Linked DNA regions of Homo sapiens. The protein of the gene in region 1 interacts with the protein of each later gene in a pairwise test. Each region holds a gene or a part of one and is shown on either strand. Other genes may lie near its edges. The genes, in order: AKR1B1, SHBG and EFCAB11.

The links.
Region 2: the proteins of AKR1B1 (region 1) and SHBG interact in a two-hybrid assay, tested with the Homo sapiens proteins (one study listed by BioGRID).
Region 3: the proteins of AKR1B1 (region 1) and EFCAB11 interact in binary tests that used the Homo sapiens proteins (3 or more experiments, as listed by UniProt).

What each region holds. Positions count from the first base shown.
Region 1 is NC_000007.14:134,456,078-134,463,158, reverse strand, and holds the start of AKR1B1 (aldo-keto reductase family 1 member B1), read left to right. Parts: upstream 1-4,058; 5' UTR 4,059-4,096; coding exon 4,097-4,162; intron 4,163-7,081. UniProt on the Homo sapiens protein: Catalyzes the NADPH-dependent reduction of a wide variety of carbonyl-containing compounds to their corresponding alcohols.
Region 2 is NC_000017.11:7,626,261-7,633,185, forward strand, and holds the start of SHBG (sex hormone-binding globulin isoform 1 precursor), read left to right. Parts: upstream 1-3,874; 5' UTR 3,875-3,912; coding exon 3,913-4,023; intron 4,024-4,155; coding exon 4,156-4,247; intron 4,248-4,419; coding exon 4,420-4,609; intron 4,610-4,939; coding exon 4,940-5,101; intron 5,102-5,328; coding exon 5,329-5,488; intron 5,489-5,618; coding exon 5,619-5,755; intron 5,756-6,491; coding exon 6,492-6,699; intron 6,700-6,925. Other genes in the region: SAT2 (thialysine N-epsilon-acetyltransferase), read right to left, coding at 187-354, 493-533, 683-784, 883-966, 1,103-1,154, 1,293-1,595. UniProt on the Homo sapiens protein: Functions as an androgen transport protein, but may also be involved in receptor mediated processes. Each dimer binds one molecule of steroid. Specific for 5-alpha-dihydrotestosterone, testosterone, and 17-beta-estradiol.
Region 3 is NC_000014.9:89,951,631-89,958,792, reverse strand, and holds the start of EFCAB11 (EF-hand calcium-binding domain-containing protein 11), read left to right. Parts: upstream 1-4,062; 5' UTR 4,063-4,132; coding exon 4,133-4,207; intron 4,208-4,256; exon of another isoform or gene 4,257-4,435; coding exon of another isoform or gene 4,436-4,438; intron 4,439-4,791; coding exon 4,792-4,887; intron 4,888-7,162.

The DNA.
Region 1 (7,081 bases):
GTTTCACTGTGGTGCAGGACCAGAGTCATAGCCAATCCTGGGCCCAGTCTTTGTGCAGTTGGCCCACATGTGGGCTTGGTGGAATGAAGATGGAGCCCCAGTGCTGGAGAAGTGCAATGGCTACGGCCCCCAGAGCAAGGCACAGTCCAGAAATGGCTCTAATCTCAAGATGGCGCCATGCTGCAGCAGCTTGGCTCACTAAGGGAAGGGTGTGTACACACCCTGTGCTCCTAATCCGGAGTGATACAGCTATATGGATTCCCAGAAGCTCTTCAAACTGGGCACGGGGCTTGCAAGGACTGTGGGATTATTTTGTAATGAGGACTGGAGTCATTTACAGTGGCAATGGAGACTGGTGAGGTTCTTTTACCTTCTCCCTAAAAGGGGACTTCCCTCCTGTCTCTGGGCTGATGCAATTGTGGCAGGCAAGATGGGGCTACAGAGGCCATGTGCCTCCATGGTACTCTCTTGGGCTTCCAATCACTACAAGTACCCCTTTACTCCCCCATTGCACTTTAATGCTCTTTTTTCATAATTGCAGTTAAATATTAGCGGTTTATTTATTCCCTTGGTCCTTTCTTATGGTGGGGACAAGAACTAGGCATTTCTAGTCAGCCTTCTTCCTGACGTCACTCATTCCAAAATTCTTAGTGTGAGTCACAGTTTAAAAATTTGAAAGCTACTGGTAGTGGTTAAGAGTTTGAGTGCTATAGTCAAATTCCTAGGTTTAAATATTGACCCTAACATTTACTTAATGTGAGATCTTAGCAATTTTTCTCACTTCTCTGCATCTCAGTTTCTTCACGTGTAACATGGATTGATCATAGTATCCATGAAAGGGGTGGTTATGAAGATTAAATGATTTAATGTACATAACTCAATAGATATATAAGCAGCAGCAGCAGCACCTTCATATAACATATGCCAAGTGCTGAACCATAATACAGTGTCCAAACCATAATAAAGACTCAGTAGTGGTTTGTCGTTGTGGAAGAGACTTCTGTTGCTCACCATACCCATTCACTTCTGTTTTCTGGCATACAGGAGGATGACACTTCCCCATCCCATTGAAGATAGGCCTGGCTGGGCTCTACCACCAGATCTGGTTAAAGGATTATAGGTAGAAGTGATGTGTGCCACTTCCAGGACTGAGCAATTGATTGCTCATTTGAGACTCTTAGGTTCTCTTTTGCCTTCCTAAGCCAAACCCTGAAACCTTGGGTTGGGACAGCAGGGAAACAATGTGGTGGGACCTCCATAGCTTGAGTCCCTGAGTGACAATGTGAACAGAGCCTACTGTCACCCTCAGCTCCACCAGCTTGTGTTGGACATGTAGCATATAACCTTTGTTTGTTTATAGAAGCTTTATTGATGTATAATTTACGTACCATATGATTTACCTTTTTAAATATGCAATTGGGTGGTTTTTTTGTATATTCAAACTTGTACCAGATCTCGCAGGGCCTTGAATGCCAGGCTCAAGAGTTTAGGTTTTATCCTATGGGAATTGGACAGTTCATAAGAAGTTGTCTTTTAATTCAAAATGTGTTCATTAAGGAAATAATCTGACAAAGAGTATTCCCCATTTCCTTCTGTCTTCTTCCTAAATTTCCTAAATGTTATAGGTTGTATTTTCCTTCTTAGCATCATTCCATAGCTATATGACTTTGTTTTCTACTTTCACCTTAACATTACCTCATATACATTTTTCTCTGTGTCTTTGTCATCTTTACTTTTGATGGCTACACCTTATCTCTTGCTATTGTTGGATATTTACAGTTTTACTTTAAGTATACAGCATTTTAAAAATACATACGCATATGTGTATATCTGTGTGCAGGCCTGGGACTAAGGGAAGGCAAGTGCCAAGGACATAAATGTAAAAAAGCTCCTACCTTCTGGCATGAAAATTTGTACCTGTGTACCTCATTTGTCTTACCTTGGTCCCAGCCCAGCCCTATACCTAGTGTGTGTGTGTGTGTGTGTGTGTGTGTGTGTGTGTGTGTGTGTGTGTGTTTTCCTTTTAAATTATTTCCTTAGGAAAAATTCCCATGATGGGAGATTACTGGTTCAGAGCATGTTAAGATTCCAATTACTAGAGTGTTTCTCAGGAGGATTCCATTGAAGGTTTTTTTCCCTTTTTCAAACAAAATTTTGATATGTATACTTATCAAAAGATGGGAGATCAAAAATCTTGAGATCAAAAATTTTGGTATGTGTACATTTTACAAAGATTACAGAGGCAATGGGGGATGTTAGGGGGCTATCACAATAGCATGTCCCAACTAGAGTGCTATTGTTGCTATAGAAATTCCACTGATACAACTTTTCATGTCTGCATGGCCCAGCCAAAATATTCTGGGTTTATTTATTTATTTTACAGACAGGGTCTTGCTATGTTGTCCAGGCTGGTCTCTAACTCCTGGGCTCAAGCAGTCATCCCACCTCAGCCTCCTGAGAAGCTGAGACTACAGGTATCACTCCAGCTTTAGACACAGTTATAACTTCATGCAATCAAGCTGTATACTCAATTATTATCAAACCAACAACAAAGCCTCTGATATTGAGTCCATGTCCCTAACAGACGACCCTTCTGTGTGTACCAACCTGGCCACTCAAGGTGTATCATTTTCACAAGAGATTAGCTCTTTGGATTTGGACCCAGGAGGTTCAATTGGCAGAGCAACCTCCAAGTCAAGAGGACTCTCATGGAGGAAGGAACTTGCTGTTTTACACAAAGCAAGTTCCCAGCTTTAGGCTCAAGTTCAAATTCTATTACTTGGGGACAAATGAATTTGCCCAATAGCAACAATTTTTACAAAAGTTACATGGAAAAATATCTGGGCTAGTCTGTTCTGTATAAATTTTTCCAGGAGGGAGCACTTTTAAAGAAAGCACCAAATGGAAAATCACCGGCATGGAGTTTAGAGAGACCTGGTGCTTGAGTCACTACCAGGCAGATGGAGTTCCCAATCTTGCATAATTAGGGGAAAGATCGGAGGGTGATGGAGCAGAAAGAGCAGTTGGGGTGAGGTAGAGTATCATGAAGAGAGGTTGTTGGAAAGAAACCAAAATTGTCTTCAAGGATCTTCAAGTGACTTTTCTTAGGCTATCTTGGAAAAATGTGTGTTTCTACCTGCCAATTAGGGTGATCAATTTACTATTTTGTACCTTCTAATTTGAAATACTGGAAGCTACAATATTAGAGTCAACTTTTTCTTCTGTGGTTTTCTGTCTGTTCACTTTTCTTCCTCTAGAGAGTTTTGATAAGTTACTGTACTGGAACTTACTGCTTTGATAGAGTCTCACTTTCCAAAGACTGATGAAATTTGTCTTACTGATTCTGAATGGACAGCCTTACTTTCCAAATTCTTCTGAGAGTTCTGGATCAAGCCCATCAAGGCTTTCTAACCTCAAGAACATCAAAGGATGCTGGCTTTTGGTGGAAGGCTTGCTGAACCACACCTAGTATGCACAGACACAGCTAACACCTAGAGTGGGGTGCAAAGAGAGATCTAGAAGGCTACAAAAAGTCTGGGCAAACCCATATTTTGTGAAGGTGCTTTGCAAAAGGATTGCAAGCCATTTTTCTGGCATGCACCTTTGTCTAAGAACAAAGTGCGGTAAACTATATGTGTAGTCAGTATGATTCACATAGATTAAGGACAAGGTATTCGTCAGATTCCCAAAGAGCATCAAACTGGGGTTGGACAACAAAGGCATTCTTCTGGGCTCTTAATGAAACCAAAACTTATTTCTAGTCTATGTATTTATGGGATGCCTGTTATTTTCGCTAAAGCATTCGCTTTCCCACCAGATACAGCAGCTGAGGAACTCCTTTCTGCCACGCGGGGCGCGGGCGAGCGTTGGGGGCGGAAAGAATCCGCTGCCACTAGGACCAGGCGGAAGAAGCATCCCCGCCGACCCTTGGGGAAGGCCGCCGCGGCACCCCCAGCGCAACCAATCAGAAGGCTCCTTCGCGCAGCGGCGCGCCAACCGCAGGCGCCCTTTCTGCCGACCTCACGGGCTATTTAAAGGTACGCGCCGCGGCCAAGGCCGCACCGTACTGGGCGGGGGTCTGGGGAGCGCAGCAGCCATGGCAAGCCGTCTCCTGCTCAACAACGGCGCCAAGATGCCCATCCTGGGGTTGGGTACCTGGAAGGTAGGTGCTCGTGGGGGCGCGGGCCCGGGGCTCGCCTCACACTCTCCGCGCGGCCTGTATTGGCGAGGGACCCCGAGTGACCCTGAGCAGCTCGCCCCGCGGACGCCCGGCGTGCTGGGAGCCACGCGCGGGCTTGCAGGGTCCCCAGCGGGCTGGGGTCGGCCTTGCAGAGACCGGGGGCCTTGGCTCCCCGGGTTGGCCCTGGGCGTCAGGGCAGCATCCTGCGAGTGGGGTTTGGGAGCAGCTCACGGGAGCCCCCGCCCTACCGCGGGCAACCCTTGATGGGCGGCCCACCAGTCCGCATTTTGGGTCCTAGCGGGCGCCCCAAGCGGCACAACGCGAGAGGGAGGCGGGGAAAGTGGGCTTCACAGACCGGTGGACCTCGGGCGCAGACAGGGACGTGGAGCCGTCGGCAAGGTGTGGGAGCGCAGACCCAGCCTCCTTTCCCTCGAGGCACCTGTAGCCCGGTTGCCTCACTTGTAAATAGTTGGTCTCAATCGTTTCGATTCTTGCCCTCCCTGAGGAATAAGCATCTCAAGCCGGTAGAGGGCAGAGAATTAGGTGGCGCGAGTTTGCCCGGACCCAGCTGTTAACAAGGCGCAGTGCGGAGCTCCTCGGCCAGGCGCCGCCTCGGGGTGCCCTGGGTCTGGAACTCGGGAGAAAAATCTGGGCACCCCGTAGCTAGTTGATAATTCAGGAGGCGCCAAGGTTAGCATTTTCCCTGTAAAACCTCAACACCACACAGCGTCCCCGAGAAGTGCCTAGCCGGATGAGAATGACAATAGGACATGAAACATCATAGGATATGAAAAATGATAATATGATATGAAAAACCAAAAATAATAGCCTGAGCCTGATTATCTGAAAATTGAGCAACAAAGGTGGTGGTATGGGAGCTGAGGCAAAACCTAGAATTTTTAACCTTCTAAGTATTGCATATTATATTCCACAGCCATAACCTGGGTTTCTCAGTTTCTGTTTTTGTTGTTTGCTTGTTTGTTTGTGACAGGGTCTCGTTGCCCAAGCTGGGGTGCAGTGGCACAATCATGGTTCATTGCAGCCTGGAACTCCTGGGCTCAAGTGATCCTCCTGCCTCAGCACTGCGGGTAGCTGGGACTACAGGCGCTCACCACCACACCTGGCTAATCTTTTTTCTTCCCCGCAGAGACAGTCTCCGCTTGTTGCTTAGGGTGATCTCCAATTCCTGGGCTCAAAGCGCTCCTCCCACCTCGCCTCCCAAAGCTACAGGTGTGAACCATCTGGCAGGCCCACGTCCCAGGTTTTTCTCTTAAAATTTGAATATGGGCCTGGGCGTTGGATATTTACACACAGACAAGGGAAGAAAACAACAGAAAGAACTGAGTGAACTGTGAGATGTTTGAAATAGGACAGAAGAGTTTACATGTACCCTAAAACCTGCTGTTGAAAATTAGTAAATATAAGGTAAGAAAAAGGTCATTTGCATCAGGGAGAGTGTTTCTTGGCCAGAATGATCAGGGTACGTGATTTGTTTCCTCCAAAAACTCCAGTGGTGTCTCTAAGGTTGTAATTGAATTACAACCATGACACCAAGCTAATTTCCATCTGTTGCATGTTATGCTCTTGGAATGGATGCAGAAGGATGCTTTCTTGGCAATAGCAAATACTTTCTAAGCATGATGCAACGCACAGATATATACATGTAACTGGAATAAAAATTACTTAACAGTACTTAACCTATGTAGGCTGCATTTCAATATTTTTTTCTATTCCATTTTTCCAAAAATTATTGTCATACCTCCAGAAGCTAGTTTTGTGACCCATCATTTGAAAATCACTACTCTAGGGTAAATAAGGAGTAAAAGTTTATTTTTTTTTTTTTGAGACAGGGGCTCAGTGTCACCCAGGCTGGAGTGCAGTGGCATGATCATGATTCACTGTAGCCTTAACCTCTTGGGCTCAAGTGGTCCTCATACCTCAGCCTCCCAAGTAGCTGGGACCACAGGTGTGTGCCACCACACTCGGGTAGTTTGTTTTTAATTTTTTGTAGAGACAGGTTTCCCTATGTTGTCCAGGCTGAGGAGTAAAAGTTTATGAAAGAGGGTTTCAGATTATTCACTTGAGCACTCAATGCCCCAAAAAGCTATGTATTTGTTTAAGATAACATCACATCATAACATCTGTACATTTAGGTTATGCATTCCAGTAGACAGAGTTCATTGAGAAATTGGATAATGTCTGCTTCATTCATTACTATTTCTAGCACTTCTCACAGTGCCTGGCAAATATAGGAGTAGGTATCCAAAAGTTATGTGTTGAATTCATATGAAGAAGTAAAACGACTTTAGAGATAGCTGTATGGTGAAAACGCCCACTTGTATTCCTGTGGATGAGGAGATCAGGTTGGTGTAGAATTGTACGGTGGGGGCAGCGGGGAATGGTGGGTCAAAGTAATGGTATAAGGATGGACTTGGAATCAACTTCCTTTTTTTTTTTAATGACTTAAAACCTTTCCCTGGGGCCGGGCGCGGTGGCTCACACCTGTAACCCCAGCACTTTGGGAGGCAGAGGCGGGCAGATCATGAGGTCAGAAGATAGAGACCGTCCTGGCTAACATGGTGAAACCCCGTCTCTACTAAAAATACAAAAAATTAGCCCGGCATCGTGGCACGCACCTGTAGTCCCAGCTACTTGGGAGGCTGAGGCAGGAAAATCGCTTGAACCCCAGATGTGGAGGTTGCAGTGAGCCGAGGTCCCGCCACTGCACTCCAGCCTGGGCGATGGAGCAAGACTCCATCTAAAAAAACAACCAAACAAAAAAACCTTTCCCTTGTATGTGTGTATGTATTCTTTCACAGATGCTCGACAGAAGATGTGATCCTTTGCCTGTCTTTGTGACAGCTGGAGGAGGCCCTGCAGGCAGGTGCAGTTCCTTATTCT
Region 2 (6,925 bases), on another chromosome or scaffold:
TCACCCTCAACAAGGAAGAAAGGTCTCTCCCTCAATTCTGCTCTTCCAATACTTGAGGATAGGCACCCCTAACCCTCCTTCCTCCAGGGAGGCCTCAGCATCAGTGTCTGTGGACGTAGTCTCTGAAGAGTGCTTCAGCTGATGGGGAAGGAGAAACTCAAGACAGAGATCCTCCTAGGGATGGCGTCACTTTCCTGCCAACTTTCTCGTTGCCTCTCCTTGAAAGCAGAAGAAGTGCCAGCCCTCAGCTTCCGTCAGATCTTGGGCTCCTAGGGCCTTGTACAAGTCCATGGCCCTCTGGTTCCAGTCCAGGACGGCCAGGCGGAATTGGGAGCAGCCCTTATCCAAGGCCACCTGTGGGAGAAGACAACACTAACTTTTCTGGGGTCAAAAAAGAAAAAGGTTTTCTCACTCCCTCTTTCAACCCGGGTCCCCCCTCCATATACCCTTGCTTCTTCAGGTCCTCACTTGTCGCCCCACCCATCTCCTCACCTCAGCCACCTTTTTGATTATTTTGGAACCAATCCCTTGACCTGTTGTGGAGAGAAAGAGGCAAAAAATAGCTATTGTTTGAGCTGAAGGGGATCAGAAAATGACACCGGCTGGGCTCTGGGGACAGGGGATAACAGTGGGGTCTGTGGGGTGCTTTGCTCCCACCCCAGCCTCAGCTTCTGCCCAGTACCCCGATATTCCGGCATCACATAGATATCCTCCAGATAAATGGTGCGTCCCTTCCATGTACTGTAGATGAAATAGTATATCCCATAGCCCACCACGCAGGGCCCTGAGAGAGAGAAAAGGGGAGTAAGGCTTCTGGAAGCCTGTGGGGAGACCTCTGAGGCCGGCTGGAGAGGTGGACTTCTAAGGGCCAGGTGCTCTTACCCAGTAGCTTCCCGGGCGCTGGAAGAATCTCTGCTACCAAACAGTGATAGAAAGGATTGTCTCCAAAGCCATCTGCTCTCAGGGCTGCCGAGATTGGAGTTGTGACAAAGAGATAGAGAAAGAGGACGTGGGTGTATGCCCAGCCTGGAGCTGTCGCCTGGGGAACCCATCCCTCATTTCCTCCCCAGCCTCCGCCAGAACCTGGGCGCTGAGCCCCCACCTTCTTCACTGATCTTCACCTGATCCGAGAGTTTTTCGAATTCGGCTAGCTCCTAAGGCGTGGGTACGGAAGCTAGATTAGAGCAGAAGGGCCCCGCTGCTCCCCGAGCAGGTTCCCAAGGCGAGCCCCTCCCCCTGCCCCCGCCTCCTACGACCCCGCTCTGGCCGCGCCACTCTGACCCCCGGGTTACCGGCCTGCAGTCTTCACCCGAATCAGCCTCAGGATATCTCCACAGTCTCCCTCCTTGGCCTCTCGGATCCGCACGGAAGCCATCCGGATCCCCGCTGTCTGGGACCAAAGTCCCAGGGCCTCGCAAACGGCAACTAGACCCCTTAAAGGGCCTACGGACTTGGATCCTGAAGAGCCTGAGAGAGCGGGGTGGCGGGAGTCGGGGGGGACGGCGGGGTAGCCGCGGCCTGGTAAGTGGAGCTGGGATTCCGGCGCCGTACGGGAGGAGAGAGTAGGCCAGCGAGGCGATCCTCTGTCCGGGCATAGCCCCACCCCCTCGAATTCTGTCGCAGCAGGGGGCACAACTGTCAGCCAATCAGCTTGGAGAACAGGCACGGCCGCGTCCCCCCCAAGCCCCACCCCCGACAGCTGGATCTTGTGACTGGGCTCCTGGGTAGAGTTCAAGGTTGGAGTGAAGCGGCTTCCTTGCGGTTGTGTGGGTGTCCCAACCTGGGTCGAGATACCCCGCGGTTCAAAGGCTCCCCCGCAGTGCTTTTTAAATTGACATATGCAGTGATAACCTGCTTTAGCCTCAGGCTCACTCACCCGCCCAGACCCTGGGTAAGCCTTAAGACCCTCAGCTCTGAAAGCTGTTTCCTGCAGCTCTTGAGTAGCATGAAGTGTTACCTCTTGGGGGCATTTGCATTTTTTAAATGTTTTATTTTTATATTTATTTATTTATTTATTTTTGGAGATGGTGTATTGCTTTGTCGCCCAGGCTGGGGTGTAGTGGCGCGATCTCTGCTCACTGCAGCCTCCACCTCCCGAGTTCAAGCGATCCTCCTGTCTCAGCCTCCGGAGTAGCTGGAACTACAGTCGCGCACCGGCACGCCCGGCTAATTTTTTTTTCTTTTTTCTTCTCTTTTTTTTTGTTTTAACGGATTCTCACTCTGTCACTCAGGCTGGAGTGCAGTGGCGCGATCTCGGCTCACTGCAACCTCTCCCTCCTGGGTTCAAGCGATTCTCCTGCCTCACCCTCGGAGTAGCTGGGATTACAGGCATGGGCAACCATACCTGGCTAATTTTTGTATTTTTAGTAGAGACGGGGTTTCACTATGTTGGCCAGGCTGGTCTGGAACTCCTGACCTCAAGTGATCTGCCCGCCTCAGCCTTCTAAAGTGCTGGGATTACAGATGTGACCCACCAAGCCCGGTCTGTCATTTGCATTTTAAAATGGGTCATGGGGTGGGCACAGTGGCTCACACCTGTAATCCCAGCATTTTGGGAGGCAGAGGCAGGCGGATCACCTGAGATCAGGAATTTGAGACCAGCCTGACCAACATGGTGAAACCCCGTCTCTACTAAAAATACAAAAATTAGACAGGTGTGGTGGCGCATGCCTTTACTCCCAGCTACTCGGGAGGCTGAGACAGGAGAATCGCTTGAACCTGGGAGGTGGAGGTTACAGTGAGCCGAGATCGTGCCATTGCACTCCAGCCTGGGCAACAAAAGCGAAACTCCATCTCAAAATAAATAAATAAAATAAAATGCGTCAGGGAGGGTCGGGCCTTGTGGCTAATGCCTGTAATCCAGGTACTTTGGGAGGCTGAGGTGGGCGGATCATTTCAGGTCAGAGGTTCGAGATCAGCCTGGGCAACGTGGTGAAATCCCCGTCTCTACTAAAAACACAAAAAAATTTGCTGGGCGTGGTGGTGCGTGCACCTGTAGTCCCAACTACTAAGGAGGCTGAGACAGGAGGATCGCTTGAACTCGAGAGGCAGAGGCAGCAGTGAGCCGAGATCACGCCACTGCACTCCAGCCTGGGTGATAGAGCAAGACTCTGTCTAAAATAAAATAAAATAAAATAAAATAAAATAAAATAAAATGGGTCAGGGAGTGGGTGATTTCTACTGCTAGACTGTTTAGGCCCTGTAATAAATGGATAAGGGAAGATAACTGAGAGGCGGGGGGCAGGTCCCTTCTTAATATTCACTGAATCATACACACAGACAATACCTTCTTGGGAGACAGGCCTCAGAGGCCTGGGAAAAGACTGGGGGAGGAGTTCAGACCAGATGCCAGGCACTGTGCCTGCATTTTCTCAATGAACCCTCTTTCACAGTCACCCCGTAAAGTATTATTTTCCTCATTTTACAGACAAGGACACTGAAGCACAGAGGTGAAGTGACTTGCCCAAGGTCACTCAGCTAGAAATTTAGGATTCCATTATCTCATTTCTAGTCCTGATACAGGATGCTACTTGGGACGCAGGGGAGGACTGTTTCTAGACCTCAGGCCTGTGAATGCAGGCTCCCCGAGTGGACAGAAATCTTGGAGGACCTAGATCAGGCCCTAGAGGAGGAGAGGGGAGATGGAATATCCTCTCCCAGTTCAGAAACTTTCTCGGCAGTGGAGGATGATAGTGGAGGGGACTCTGTCCTTCACCCCATTGATCCCCAGAGGGGTGATAGCTGAGTCTTGTGACTGGGCCCCTGGGCAGGGGTCAAGGGTCAGTGCCCCTGTTTCCTTTACCCCCTCCTCCCCGGGCAACCTTTAACCCTCCACCGCCCACACGCAAGGCTGCCTGCCTCTACACATTCTCCCAAGAGTTGTCTGAGCCGCCGAGTGGACAGTGGCTGATTATGGAGAGCAGAGGCCCACTGGCTACCTCGCGCCTGCTGCTGTTGCTGCTGTTGCTACTACTGCGTCACACCCGCCAGGGATGGGCCCTGAGACCTGTTCTCCCCACCCAGGTGCAGGAGCGGGACAGGGCACTCAGCTCATGCAGTCTTCCCTTCTCTCCTCTGGCCCTGTAGCAGGGCCTCTCCCTCTGTCTGTCTCTGACATGTCCCTACTCAGCTTTGTTTGTTTTCTCTTTCTGATAGAGTGCCCACGACCCTCCGGCTGTCCACCTCAGCAATGGCCCAGGACAAGAGCCTATCGCTGTCATGACCTTTGACCTCACCAAGATCACAAAGTATGGGGTTGGCCTAGCCCTTGACCCAGTCCCCTGGTTCTGCCCTCTCTCCATCAGCTCTTCTCTTTTCCCTGTCTTCCTTTCCTTATCTGTGAACACCATCTCCCCCAAACCCACACTGGTTCTCAAAGGACACATGACATACACAATCTTTCCTTCTGTGTCCTTCCAGAACCTCCTCCTCCTTTGAGGTTCGAACCTGGGACCCAGAGGGAGTGATTTTTTATGGGGATACCAACCCTAAGGATGACTGGTTTATGCTGGGACTTCGAGACGGCAGGCCTGAGATCCAACTGCACAATCACTGGGCCCAGCTTACGGTGGGTGCTGGACCACGGCTGGATGATGGGAGATGGCACCAGGTAAGCTAGCTCTGGTCCTCAGGGGAGGGATGTCTGGAGCTGGTCTGAGGAAAGGGAACAAAACCAAGTTATTGGGCATCCCTCTACCACTGTCATCTCGTTTAATCCACACGAACCCCCACAAAGTAGCTATTCTTGGCCCCATCTTTTCTGATGGGAATTCTAAGGCTCAGTCAGTATATAAGTGACAAGAGCTGAGTGACCCAAGGCCAAGGATGCTAGCTGCTTCTTTAAGGCATGTTCTTTCCACTATAGTACTAGGCTGCCTCACAGGAAGGTGGCAGAAACAGATCCCAGGGGCCTCTGATTTTGCTTCCCACCTTCCTGCAGGTGGAAGTCAAGATGGAGGGGGACTCTGTGCTGCTGGAGGTGGATGGGGAGGAGGTGCTGCGCCTGAGACAGGTCTCTGGGCCCCTGACCAGCAAACGCCATCCCATCATGAGGATTGCGCTTGGGGGGCTGCTCTTCCCCGCTTCCAACCTTCGGTTGCCGGTAACTACACCCCAGGGGTGGAACCCTAGCCAAGACTTGGTAAAGCACTGCTGGGTGGCTGGCCGTGGGAATCTAAGTCCACACTTTTAGGGAGAAGGGAAGGGTTGAGAGCTGCAAGGGGGAGGCCAAATGCTCAGAGGGGAGTCAACTGAGGGCAGGGAGGTCGGGACTGCGGCTCCGATGCCCTGATTTCTACATCCCCGTATCTTATCTCTGTCACACTCCAGCTGGTTCCTGCCCTGGATGGCTGCCTGCGCCGGGATTCCTGGCTGGACAAACAGGCCGAGATCTCAGCATCTGCCCCCACTAGCCTCAGAAGCTGTGATGTAGAATCAAATCCCGGGATATTTCTCCCTCCAGGGACTCAGGCAGAATTCAATCTCCGAGGTAGATTTCCTCGGAGTCTATTTTTCCCACCCTGGCCAGCTCAGCCTGCCTCTGTCCCCCTCTACCACTGGCCCCTTTCCTCCTTGAGACCCCAGCTTTGAGGCCTCAGGATAATCATTTCTCCCCACAGACATTCCCCAGCCTCATGCAGAGCCCTGGGCCTTCTCTTTGGACCTGGGACTCAAGCAGGCAGCAGGCTCAGGCCACCTCCTTGCTCTTGGGACACCAGAGAACCCATCTTGGCTCAGTCTCCACCTCCAAGATCAAGTAAAGGGGGACAGTGGGGCATTGCCTGTATTCAGTGGAGCCTGGAGCAATGAGGGAAGAGGGGAGTCCAACATGTCAATATTAGGAAGGTTTCCAGCCCAGGGAACATAACAAGACTGGCTCCACAGAATTGTTTTTCATTAATAATTAGCCAGGCATGGTGGTGCTTGCCTGTAATCCCAGGTGCTGGAGGCCAAGACCAGAGGATCACTTGAGGCCAGGAGTTTGACACCAGCCTGGGCAACATAGCAGAGACCTCTGTCTAAAAAAAAAAAAAAATTAGCCAGGCATGGTAGCACATGTCTGCTGCCCTAGCTATTTAGGAGCCTGAGGCAGGAGGTTCACTTGAGCCCAGGAGTTTGAAGCTGCAGTGAGCTATGATGTGCCACTGCACTCTGACCTGGGCCACAGTGAGACCCTGTCTCAAAAAAATAAAAATAAAAATAAGGCTTATGGATGGCACTCAGGTGGGTGGTAGGGGCGAGGGACATATCTTGAAGCTCCCCACAGCAAGCAAACAGTTTTGACTTAGACTGCATATTTACTTGGGGCAGGTGTGGTTTCAAAAAGGGTCAAGCCAAAAAAAATTGGGGCAGGATTTAAGTGGTGAGAATGGCCAGTAGGTGGAGGCATAGCGAAGAGGCAGAATTAAGGCAGCTAGGGGTGAGGCCACAGGCAGTAGGCCCGGCTCATTCTTCCCTCTCTCTCTACCGTCCCTTTCCCACACACTCTGCAGAAGGTGGTGTTGTCTTCTGGGTCGGGGCCAGGGCTGGATCTGCCCCTGGTCTTGGGACTCCCTCTTCAGCTGAAGCTGAGTATGTCCAGGGTGGTCTTGAGCCAAGGGTCGAAGATGAAGGCCCTTGCCCTGCCTCCCTTAGGCCTGGCTCCCCTCCTTAACCTCTGGGCCAAGCCTCAAGGGCGTCTCTTCCTGGGGGCTTTACCAGGTAAGAGAGAATGATGTTCAAGTTCATGAGCACAACATTGGAAACAGCTCAAGGGAGGCGGCACATTTTGAGGGGAAGGAAACCTCTGGGAGGGAAGAAGAATAGGCCACAAGAAGAAGATATGGGGGCAGTGGAAGGTAGTGCTTTTGCAAACTCAGGTTGGAGGAGTGGAAAAGTGGGGAGAAGATTCTGGATCCGAGCCACCTTAATGCTCTAATGCCACCTT
Region 3 (7,162 bases), on another chromosome or scaffold:
AGGGCCCCAGTGAAACCCCACCTGCAAACCAAAGACAGTTTAAAGCCTGAAAGCCAAGCTACAAGTGTTGGGTAAATCCACGGACCGGATTGATAACCCCTCTTCCCACTTGGCACACTTTCCTCTGATCAATCCCCACCCTTCACCTACTTTACATATATCTACCCTTCCCTAATTGGTTTTTTACATTGTCATGCCCACCTTTGAGTGGTGCCTTTGTTTTAGCCTTTTTTGCATACTCACAAACCATGGAGCACACACTCCCTCATTCTGAGCCCATAAAAGCCCCAGACTCAGTCACACCAGCGAACTGCCCACCTTGGGGTCAGGGCAGGGGCCATCCACTTGGGGTCCCGTCTCTGCTGAGAACTGTCTCATCACTGAGTAAAACTCACCTCCGCCCTTTTCCCCTTCGGTTGTCAGCCTAACCTCATTATTCTTGGACGCAGGACAAGAAATTCGGACCAGCTAAACAGCGAGTGCAAATAGAGCTATAACCCTGTAGCACTCCGTTCCGCTAGTGAAGCAATGGGAGAGGGAGCTGCTGGCTGCCACACACCCCCATTCATTGGGCTGCAGATGGTGGGACTAAAAGAGCTGTTAATACATCTCTATTTGCCTGGTGTCTCCAAGTGTTTGGGCACTACTGCATCCCCCTCGTCTGGACACCAGAATCTGCTACCAGAGTCACTTGCCATACACCCAGGCCATCCACAAGCCCTACATGGAGCCTGTGACTGGGCCAGCACTTGGAACAGCCAGCCGGGCCTCCAGGCTTGCTCACTCACTCACAAACCGACTCCTCGCGGGCTGAGCATGCAGTCATAGTGGCCACGGGATCTGGGCGGGGATGAAAGACAAATGCATTCTGCCAGGCTGAGTGGGCAGGGCACCTCCTGCAGCCAGCCCAGGGCTGGAGGTCTCCAGCTGGCAAAGCGGCCCTGAAATAAATCCTGTGTCATGTGTTAAGAGAATAAAGCAAACTGGGGAGAAGGCAGGTGAGTGTGAGTGAAATTTGGCAAACACTGCACTAACATGAAAAATCTAAGAAATCTTCCCACCAAATGCTAGCTCAGGACACTGTTAGCACTTTTATTAAGGACTTTAAAACATGTTGTGGATATAAAAGGGTACTCCATTTAGAGCTACTAGTGTTTCCTCACTCCCCACTATATGAGACCCAGCTGGGGCATTTCTCTTTCACCTCCAGCTGCTCCTTCTCATTGAGCTTAAAGACCATCAGCTGGGCCTGGAGGCCATGCTCCTCAATTGAGTTCCTGTGTGGCCAGTAATAGGCAAACATGGTCCCTTGTCTCAAACCCGGCCATGACTAGGGAGTAAATGTGCACTTGGGCAGGTTAGTTAACTGCTGAGCCTCAGTTTTTTAGTCTGTGAAATGGATATCATGCTTACCCCCTGGAGTTCATTCATTCAATAACTTACTGGGCAGCTATTATGTACCAAAAACTGGGAATGAGGCGTTAACAATATAGTTTCTACCCTAGCAGAGCTAATTTCAGGGCAGAAGAGACAGACCCACACATAAAAATTTTAATAGCCAAGATGAGTTAGACATTCATTACATTTTATAAGTATGAGACAGAAAAATAGGGGTGACCTTTGGAATATACTTAAAAAGTAACATATAAATGAGACCCAGAGGGCCAAAAGGAACCTGCTGTCTAAATGATGGGGTGAAGAGCATTCCCAAGTAGAGGGAACCCAGCCGGCAGAGGTGGGAAAGAGGTCATAAGAAAGGACTTAGGCAAGGCAGGCAGTGGTCCGAAGCGGGTGAGGGGAGAAGACTTGTTAAAGAAATTGGATTTTATGCAATGATCAATGGGACCCCACTGAGGGCTTTAAGAAGGGGAGTCCGATTTACATTTATTTTTTTGAGACAGAGTCTCGCTCTGCCGCTCAGGCTGGAGCGCAATGGCGCAATCTCGGCTCACTCCAACCTCTCTGCCTCCCAGGTTCAAGCAATTCTCCTACCTTAGCCTCCCGAGGAGCTAGGATTACAGGCATCCACCATCACGCTCGGCTAATTTTTCTATTTTTGTAGAGACGGGGTTTCACCATGTTGCCCGGGCTGATCTCAAACTCCTAACCTCAAGTGATTCAGCCGCCTCGGCCTCCCAAAGTGCTAGGATGACAGGCGTGAGTCACCGCGCCCGGCCTTCGATTTGCCTTTTTAATACAGCTGTGTGCTCCAACTCTGCGGAGAATGGGTTGAAGACAAAGGAAGTGAGAGGGCTCTTGCTGAAGGCGTTGGGGACGGAGCAGATTCAGAACGTGAGGAAGTGACGGCAGCAGCTGCTAACCTTACTGCGTGCTCATTTGGGGCCGGCCAGGCACGATTCGAAGCGCCTCACCAAGTGTAAACTCGCTTCACCCTCAGGACAACTCTATACTACGTACCGTGACCGTCCTCCTATACTGGGAAACCGAGCACAGAAAGCTTAAGCGCCTGGCACGTGGTGGGCGCTTTCCTACTCACTTTCTGGGACCACGCACCTGTAAGCTTAGGTCTGGGAATAAAAACCCGAGCAGGGGCCCCTAGCGCCGCGCCCCGGCAGGACACAGGTCTCCGCAGCGCCCGTGCGCGCCCCCTGAGGCGCTGTGATCGGAGGAAACCGAGGCCCCGGGGCCGAGGCGACCCTGCCCCATCTTCCCGGCCGCGCCGCTTCCTCGCGGTCCGCCTCCAGCCCTGCCGGACCCCAGCAGCCCGCGCACCGCGACTCGGCCAGGAGCAGGATCCCGGGCCCGACCGCAGCCCGCGAGAGACCGCACCGAGTCCGCGCCCACTGCCGCCCAACACGTACCTGAGGCGCACAGAACCAACGCTTGCCTCGGATCCCGCCCCTTCGGCGGCCGCCGCGCATGCGCGCAGTTCAAACCCTGGCGGCAGCGGCTTGTGCCTCGAGGCCCGGCCCCTTCCCCTTCCGGAGAGCCCACCGCTGGGTCCTAAAGCCCGCCGGGTGTTTACCCAGGACGGGGCTGGGGAAACCTGGTCTCTCCTAGCTCTTGGCTTACTTCCTGGAGACTTCTTAAAACGAGAGGAGAACCAGAAAGGCGTCCCCTAACTTCGCTCTAGTTAACTAATAGCAAGACTCACCCTCTTTACAGGATTCTCATGGCTCAGGCTCCCAGGGCTCCATGCAGCGGCGTTTGGTTTAAAGTGGAGAGAGGATACGCTTAGGTTAAAGGCAGCTGCAAGGAGACCTGTGTCCTGGGAGGGGCTGGGTGCAGACTTTGAAATCTGCTGCAAAATAAAAAGTTAAATGAGTTCCCATTGGACTCAGAACCTCGAATGTCTGTTCCTTCTTCGCAACAGTTGCGTTCTCGTAAAATCTTCTGAGAAAAGGAACTCGCCCCACGTTCCTTGCCTTTAATAAGGATGTTTGCTGTGGGATTTGGGCTCGGTGCTGTTTATGGTATTTATTCTTGGAATCTCTTTCACACTAGGCATCTCTTCCAGAGGACTGAGTGAAATACATCTGTGTAAATATAACGGCTCGTTTCGTTCTTTCATTGAAGATCTACTTTGTGCCAGGCACAGTGCTAGGTGCTGGGATTATCTTGAGGACATAACAGATGTAGTAGCTGCCCTAGGAGCTCGATCCCAATGACTTGCTGATCTGAACGAGAATCCTGGACTTGGCTCTTTTCGTTTGGTTCTTCTTGTTTGTTCACAGTCTTTTTGTCTCCTATAACGTTTAGCATAGTGTCATAGATCTAAATGATTAAAAGTAACCTATTGCAAGATGGAGGGAGAGAATGAAATAAATCATGAACCAGGCATTGAACCAGCACCTAGAAGCGCTTGGATTTCCAGCCGCGCTCAACGAGTTAAGGGACAGTCAGGGGGTGGAGCCAAGTGCTGGGGGCAGGCCTGGGCGCCTCACTGCCAGGGCGGCTCCAAGGAAACGTAATTAAACAAAGACTCTGGCCAATAGCCCTGCGGGATTAACGCGAGTGGCTGGCAGGTTGTCCAATGGGAGGAGACGTCGGAGTTGCGCGGTGAAGTTCGGCTTCCTGAGCCGCGGTGGGCGTGGCCGCGGTAGGCTGCCAGCCAGGCTGGGAAAGCGGTGGTAGCTGGTTGGGTTGCTGGGGCTCGGTTGTTGTAGTCGCGATGTTCTTCTCCGAGGCCAGAGCCAGGTCGCGGACGTGGGAAGCCAGTCCCTCGGAACACAGGAAGTGGGTGGAAGTAGGTTTCCGGAGGGCGACTGAGCCTCGGACTTCAGCTTGGCCTGGGCCTCTCGCTTCCTCTCCCGTGTCTGGGTCTCACTCTGCCGGGTGTGCAGATAAGACCTGGGCTGCCTGTCCAAAGGGTCGTGGTTAATGACTGATCCTGGAGCTGCAGGGCTCCTGGCTCCCCGTCCAGGACTACGGCTACCTCCAAGTTCCATCTCCTTTCTCTCTATATAGTCTATTAATGGTAACCTTGAGTCTGCATCTCTCCCGCCTTTCAAAGCCAGCCCCTTTGCCTCACCTTCCTAACTCCAGGACTGAATTTTGGGTAGAATTTATCTCAGTGGCCTAAATGAATTAATTTGCGTCACCTAGCGGTTAACTCGTTTGCACTTTGAGGGAAATTTCAGCCCATGTTTAAGAAAATTTCAGTCCATCTTTAAGATTTCTTGAGAATTAATATTGGGATAATGAAATTCTATTTTCATACTCTACCGCTGGGCCAAGTTTTAGATTTTCGAGGTCCAAACTGTATAATAAACTAGTAATAAAAATAAACCATTTCTGTCTCATTAACTAAAGCTATTTAATGTTCTTCAGGTATTTAAAGCATGTGATGAAGATCACAAAGGATATCTCAGCAGAGAGGACTTTAAAACTGCTGTTGTAATGCTGTTTGGGTACAAGCCCTCCAAGGTAGAGCTTTCTTATATATTTGGGGATGGGGTAGACGATCAAAGGTGAATGGATCCTAAGAAAAGTTCACAGGGCTAGCTTAGGATGTTTATAAATTGCTTTATAAGCAATTTCAGAGATGTGTCCAGTGCTGAATTTTAGCTTCCTCTTAACACCTCAGCCCAGAGATGAAGTAGAAATCTTTTCCACTGGAGTCTACACAAGCCTATCTCACCACCAGGCTGCTAATAACTACTATAAATACAAGATGCTAGAGAGGTGCCAAGAGGGAAGACTGAGAGGGGAGTGTTGGTAACAGGAGAAATTTACATAGGACATGACATAGTCTCTTTCTCGTTTTACTTTTGTTGCTTTGTTTATAAAATACATCCACGGTCAAAAAATTAAAACAGTGCAGAAAGGTATAAAGTTGAGCATAAAATCCGCTCGCCGCCTACCAGAGGGTCCCACTCCTAGGGGATTACCATTAACAGTTTTTTTGTGTAATTCTGAAATTTTCTATCCATGACATACATATGCATAGTCTTTTATTGAAAACATAAATGGGTAAATATTGTGCCTACTTTAACTTGCTTTTCTCATTTAACAATATATCAACCTAAAAGCACACACCACTACTGCATTTTAAAATATGGTTGCATATTCTTTTTAGCCAGGTTCCTGTCTGGGGTTATATAGGTGGGGTTTTTTTTTTTTTTCTGCCAACATTGCTGCAATGATACACACATTTATGTCCTTGTGGCTGTATATCTGTGGAATAAGTTCCTAGAAGTATAACTGCTAGGTCATGGAATATGTACGTTTAAAATTTTGTTAGATATTTGCTCTCCAGAAAAGATTGCACCAATTCACCAATAATGAGAGTTGAGCTGAGCCTCCATGAACCTCCTGCTTGAGTAGGGCAAGTTTCCTGCTCACCCCTGTCTTTATGCTTTTCTGCTTTCCTGTTACATTCATTCGAGAGACAACACCCTTCTTGTTAAGCTGGAATTAGTCAGAGTCAAGATATTGTCCAGATTCAAGAAATTGAGCTGCCACCATCAAGCAAAGGAAGCACTCAGAGCTCAGCCTGGAATGCCATCCCTCACTCTCATTAGACCAGACAGCTTGGCAGTTAATTAGGGCCCAGCTGTTCTCCTCATGAGTGGACTGTGCCTTTCTGTCAGATTGAAAGCCCAGCAAAGCCAGGGACCCTGTGATGTCATGCCTCTCCGCCCTATTTGTGTCAACAGAACATACTTACTGTGAAGTTGTGATGCACAATAAGTATTAATATATTCTCTTGACCCAAGTAGGTTGCATGAACAGCTCAGGTGGGTTCAGAGTGGCTCAGCTATGAGGGGCTGCCTAGTTACTGAGAAGCTTATTATGGAGCTCAGAGAAGTAGTCAGGGCTGACTCTTAGAAATGGCAGCTCTCCTGTTTACCTGTAATCATTTCAGTTGGAATTACAAAGCAGGTCAGCTGAAAAGAGTCAGCCTGTGAAGCATTGTATTTAACTTGGATTCACCTGGAAAGGTATCTTGTCTCATTTTTGCCTTTATCACCCTTGAGTCTATTTGGTTTCAATTTTAGAATGAGGAATTTAATGACAGATACAGTGATGTAACATACTGTACATACACTCCATGAAATTTAACAGATTTTACTTTTCATATTGAGGTGAGGTTTTCTATTTTATTTTTTAAGCAAATGAACTATTTAGTAACCGCAGGTCACTAAACGGTATTTACTAATAGCATGTCACCTATAAACTTAGTCATTTGTACAATGAACTTTTATTATGCAGGTGACACTTAATTTCTGTGAAATTCAACAGATTTTTTTAGACTAGGTTGAGGTTTGGGGTTTAATTTTTTAATATTGCTTTTGAGCAAATGAAATATTCACTGACTGCAGGTCATGAAGCAATAAAATACTTATATAATAAATCACTTATACATTCATGCAGTTTTTTACATAATTAAGTTTATTTATTTGTTGAGATGCAGTCTTGCTCTGTCACCCAGGCTAGAGTGTAGTGGCGTGATCTAGGCTCACTGCAACCTCCACTTTCCAGGTTCAAGCAATTCTCCTGCCTCATCCTCTTGAGTAGCTGGGACTACAGGTGCACACGACCATACCCGGTTCTTTTTTTTCTTTTTTTTTTTTTGTGTTTTTAGTAGAGATGGGGTTTCACCAATGTTGGCCAGTCTGGTCTCCAACTCCTGACCTCAAGTGATCCGCCCACCTCAGCCTCCCAAAGTGCTGGGATTACAGGCATAAGCTACTGTGCC